2 separate regions of the Homo sapiens genome follow, and region 1 is linked to region 2. Evidence: fine-mapped expression QTL. A gene starts in region 2. The other region holds a variant in brackets. All regions are shown on one strand. Distances are between the middles of the regions.

What was found. PIP is the estimated chance that this variant, and not a neighbour inherited with it, causes the effect.
Region 1: its variant is fine-mapped to the expression of FASTKD5 in whole blood (INTERVAL, PIP above 0.99).

The regions. Positions count from the first base shown.
Region 1 is chr20:3,112,387-3,114,886 of GRCh38, reverse strand. The region is part of intron 4 of UBOX5 (U-box domain containing 5); the gene reads left to right. All of the region lies in intron 5 of UBOX5-AS1 (UBOX5 antisense RNA 1), which reads right to left. Among named protein-coding and RNA genes, the nearest start is that of UBOX5-AS1, 6.7 kb to the right of the region's middle. The variant C/A (reference allele first, on the strand shown) is at 1,358.
Region 2 is chr20:3,158,336-3,161,347 of GRCh38, reverse strand. It overlaps FASTKD5 (FAST kinase domains 5), which reads left to right and starts at 1,483. Exons shown (of 2, transcript NM_021826.5): 1 at 1,483-1,582. It overlaps UBOX5 (U-box domain containing 5), which reads left to right and starts at 1,483. Exons shown (of 5, transcript NM_014948.4): 1 at 1,483-1,582.

The sequences.
Region 1 (2,500 bases), 46 kb after region 2:
AACCTCCGCCTCCTGGATTCAAGCTATTCTCCTGCCTCAGCCTCCTGAGTAGCTGGGATTACAGGCGCCCGCCACCATGCCCGGCTAATTTTTTGTATTTTTAGTAGAGACGGGGTTTCACCATGTTGCCAGGCTGGTCTCGAACTCCCGACCTCGTGATCCGCCCGCCTCGGCCTCGCAAAGCGCTGAGATTACAGGAGTGAGCCACCGCGCCTGGCCTTTTTTGTTATTTTTTTCTCATCTAGCCAGTCTGCAGTCTGACATCCGGGGCACTTTATGTAAATGTGAAGAGAGGTTTGGTTGGGTTTGTCGTCCTCATCCCTTCAGATTAACACTTCCGTCAGTGTCTTAGAAAGAGCAGTGGCAGCTTATGGGCCAATTTTGCCTAAAATGAACCTTGACCCCCATTGTATGCCAGAATCTATTAGGATACAAAGCAACAGAAACTGATTGCAACGGGAGGCATTTTTTACGAGATGGAGCTCCTGCTGTGCGAAACGCCTTCTCTCTTGGCTTTTAGGCTGTTTTGCTTCTTTTCTCCTATCTTCGGTGGTCCCTCTTCAGTTTCCATTGCCAATTGCCTTCTCTACCAGCTCTGGCCCTGGACTCTCTAATCTCAATATTCTCTGTTACCCAAGTGAAAACTCACATCTCCGGCAACTGTCCATGTTCCCCTGTAGCTCCTGCTTCTCCTTGGAACTCATCCTGCCGCCCTGACAGCACTCAACATCCTCTCTCTTTTTTCTTTTTTTAAGATGGAGTCTTGCCCCTGTTGCCCTAGCTGGAGTGCGATGGCGCGATTTCAGCTCACTGCAACTTCCGCCTCCTAGGTTCAAGTGATTCTCCTGCCTCAGCCTCCCAAGTAGCTGGGATTACAGGCACCCGCCACCACGCCCAGCTAATTTTTGTATTTTTAGTAGAGATGGGGTTTCACCATGTTGGCCAGGCTGGTTTTGAACTCCTGACCTCAGGTGATCCATCTGCCTCGGCCTCCCAAAGTGCTGGGAATACAGGCATGAGCCATCATGGCCAGGCTCAGCATCCTCTCTAAAGGAAACATTCAGACTCTGTACTGCTCACATCTGCCCTCCAGAGCTTTTCCCCCTCACTGCCCCCATCATCCTACCTGGGTAAGGGCAGCATCTTCTGTCTTGTGGTGAGGCTTCTAACACAGAAGTCATTCTCGAGTTCCTTCAGTGTCCCCATCCTGACATTCTGTTCATTATCAGGTCCTGTCCATCCTCCCCCAAGGTGACCTCAGGTTAGTCCCCTGCTCTCCTTCTGTGGCCCCTCCCCTGGCTGCAGCTCCCACTGCCTCACTCCCAGACTCCTGCAGTAGCCCCTGCTGGTATCCCCC[C/A]ATCCTCGCCTTACTGTGGCTCATCATACTCATAGCAGTTGGATCTTTTTATCATGTCAGCCCATCACCATGCTCCACTTCTTCAAATCCTACCATGGCATCCCCTGAACTTAGGATAAAACCTCAACTCCTACTCCCTCTGAGGTCCTGCCTGCTGGAGCCCCCATGTCTCCTCCTCTGCAGTCTTATCTGAAGCCCACTCTCACTGTGTCTTTTTTTTTTTTTTTTTTTTGAGACAGAGTCTTGCTCTGTTTCGCTCTGTTGCCCGGGCTAGAGTACAATGGCGCAATCTCGGCTCACTGCAACCTCCACTTCCTGGGTTCAAGCAATCTTCCTGTCTCAGCCCCCACTAGTAGCTGGGATTACAGGCAAACGCCACCAAGCCCAGCTAATTTTTTTTTTTTTTTTTTGTATATTTAGTAGAGACAGCGTTTCGCCATGTTGGCCAGGCTGGTCTCGAACTCCTGACCTCAGGTGATCTACCTGCCTCAGCTTCCCAAAGTGCTGGGATTACAGGTGTGAGCCTCTGCACCCAGCTTCACTGTGTCTTTTTCTTTTCTTTTTGAGATGGAGTCTCGCTCTGTCGCCCAGGCTGGAGTGCAGTGGCACAATCCTGGCTCACTGCAACCTCTTTCTCCCTGGTTCAAGCAATCCTCCTGTCTCAGCCTTCTGAGTAGCTGGGGCTACAGGCGCCCGCCACCACGCCCGGCTAATTTTTGTATTTTTAGTTAGAAACGGGGTTTCGCTATGTTGGTCAGGCTGGTCTCGAACTCCTGACCTCAGGTGATCCACCCACCTCGGCCTCCCAGAGTGCTGGGATTACACTGGGATTACAGGTGTGAGCCACCGTGCCCGACCACTGTGTCTTTTTCTTTAACGGATAGGCTGTTCTTTGTGCTTGCTCTCCTTTCATTCTGTGTGGCTGGCCCCTTTTTATTCTCACAGCTCTTCCTACAGGAGGCCATGTTAGCCCACCCTTTTCAAAGCAAGCCCTCTTTTTTATCCTCTCTGTCACCTCAGTTTGCAGTTATATACTTGGGTTTCCATCCTGCCCAGGGCACAATAATTGTCTTTTCCTTGATGATTTTTTTTTTTTTTTTTCTGTCACTGAAACTGCCCCTGGGGCTCTGGGCCTCTGAGATC
Region 2 (3,012 bases):
GAGGTTTAGTAGAGTCTCTTTCTTGTCTAGGTACCTATACTGACAGCTGTGTCAATATATGTACCCAGTAGGACCCAGCCCTCCTTCTTAGGGTGGTGGAGAATCACCCTGGCTCATGCTCCATAGCTCTGGCCTCGCTAAGCCCCAGCTCCACATCCATTTCTCTCAGCAGGCTCATCTATCCATCATGTCACTAGCTCTTTTCCTGAGAGCACTTTACAGATACATCTCTATTATAAATGCATTAAAAAAAAAAAAAGATGGAGTCTCACTGTTGCCCCGGCTGGAGTGCAGTGGTGCAATCTCGGCTCACTGCAACCTCTACCTCCTGCGTTCAAGTGATTCTCCTGCCTTAGCCTCCCAAGTAGCTGGGGTTACAGGTGCACGCCACCATGCCCCGCTAATTTTTTTTTGTATTTTTAGTAGAGACGAGGTTTCACCATGTTGGCCAGGCCGGTCTCCAACACCGGGGATTACAGGTGTGAGCCACCACACCCGACCAATGCATTGTTAAAATTAGACAGGTGTGGTGGTGCATGCCTGTGGTCTTAGCTACTCAGGAGGCTGAGGCAGGAGGATCACTTGAACCCAGGAGGTTGAGGCTGCAGTGAGCCATGATTGCACCATTGCACCCCAGCCTGGGCAATGGGGCAAGACTTTGTCTCAAAAAAAAAAAAAATGTATTGTTTTTCTCACTGTACAGGCTTAGAGAATTTATGTGGGCCGGGTGCGATGGCTCATACCTGTAATCCCAGTACTTTCGGAGGCTGAGGCGGCAGTATTGCATGAGCCCAGGAGTTCGAGACTAGCCTGGGCAACATAGGAAGACACTGCCATCCCCGTCTCTATGAAAATAATAATAATAATATAACAAGAATGAATTTATGTGACTTCTCCAAGGCCATAAAACCCTGAGTGGTGGTCCTCAGATTTGAACATGTGTCTAAGCTACTTACTTTTTTTTTTTTTTTTTTTTTTTTAGATGGAGTCTCGCTCTGTGTCCCAGAGCTGGAGTACAGGGGTGCCCAGACTGGAGTACAGTGGCGAGATATCGGCTCACTGCAACCTCCGCCTCCCGGGTTCAAGCGACTCTCCTGCTTCCGCTTCCTGAATAGCTGGATTATAGGCGTGCGCCACCACGCCCGGCTAATTTTTGTATTTTTAGTAGAGACGGGGGTTTCACCACGTTAGCCAGGCTGGTCTCGAACTCCTGAACTCAGGTGATCCGCCCGCCTTGGCCTCCCAAAGTACTGGGATTACAGGCGTGAGCCACCGCGCCGGGACTAAGCTGCTTAATGACTTCCAGAGCGATCCATCCAGGAAGGTGTTTTCCCTCTGCAGGTCCTAGACTCCCCCTGCCTCCTCAACAACGTCCTCCAGTGGAAAATGTCCTTGGGAAACGCTGACAGAGTCTTTTGAGCCTCGGCCGCATCCGTCACTCGCGCAGCAGGCGGAAGTAGCGGGCAGTTGGCCGGAAGTGGGGCTGTGAGGCTCGGAGTCGCCGGAGGAGCCAGTATCTGTGTCGCCGCCGCCCGCGGCGTCCCCGGTTTGGTGTTGCGGCGCCCACCTTCGGGAGGATCAGGTGAGTGGCGGCGGCCGGGGAGGAGGTCGCGGCGGCCTCTTTCCGCGTTCACGACCGTCCTGGGCCTTGGCCTGTGCCTCCTGTCCTCCCGGCCGGCCCAGAGCTGGAGCGCATCGAGGCCTTGTTCAGCTCTTGGCCTGGGTTGCCAGTGCCTCTCGCAGGCCTGGCTGTGGTGAGAACTTCAGTGACTCTCGCCGCTCCTGAGTTTGTGATCTTTGGCAGGGGGCTTATCTGACCCTTGATTTTTTTTCCTCTGTGAAATGGAGATCGTAACAGTACTTGTCTCACGGTGCTGTTAAGAGAATGTAGTCAGATATTCTGCCGCGCCTCTCATCACACTTTGATGTGCCTGCGAATCGCTTAGAGATTCTGATTCTGTAGGACTGGGGTGGGTTCTGAGATAACTGTGTTCCTAACTAGATTCCAGACGAGGCTGAAGCCTCTGGCACGCAGACCACACACTGAGTAGCAAGGCCCTACAGTATGTTGCTTAGCATTTGGGATGCGGAGTCTTCGGTAAACATCAGTATGATAGGATATATACCTTCCCCCCATTTTTAGCAGTTTCTCGTTGCACAAGCCTAAGGGTAGTATTGATGGCCTTCTCCCTTTTTCTTTCCGTGGGTAAGAATAGTTGCTCTTTCTCTTTCTGTGCAAACCGTGACACAGCTCTTCTGTCTTGACTCAGGGAACTTTGGGTCCCCTCATATCAGCTGTGTTCATCAGTCTTGGGTGATGCTTCACTGATCAGACCCTTGGACAGTGCTTCATCCTGTGGAGCTGATAGCCAGCTGCGTTAGCACCAACTGTGGCTGGCGTTTTGTGCTCCAGTCATTTGTTGCTGCTGGAATCTGAATTCACGTTTTCTACACTTTGTGAATAGTAAGAATGGCTGCCTTTCCAGAACTAGATTCTGTAGCTCACTGACCTGAATGGTCCTGGGCAAGTCCTTGGATAGTTTGCTACTACCTGGTAGACTAAAATAAAATCTGGGCCGGACACAGTGGCTCACGCCTGTAATCCCAGCACTTTGGGAGGTCAAGGCGGGCGGATCACGAGGTCAGGAGATCGAGACCATCTTGGCTAATATGGTGAAACCCCGTCTCTACTAAAAATACAAAAAAATAGCTGGGCGTGGTGGCGGGCGCCTGTAGTCCCAGCTACTCTGGAGGCTGAGGCAGGAGCGTGGCGTGAACCCCGGGAGGCGGAGTGTGCAGTGAGCCGAGATCGCGCCACTGCACTCCAGCCTGGGCGAGAGAGCGAGAGTCCGTCTCAAATAAATGAATAAATAAATAAATAAATAAGTAAATAAAATCTGAAGACTCTGTGCTGCATAACATAACTTAAAAAGTGAGGCCTTTGGCAGTTATGCAGGTCTAATGTTTATTAGTCAGTATGATTTTCTTCCCCATCCATTGGTTTATTTTTTT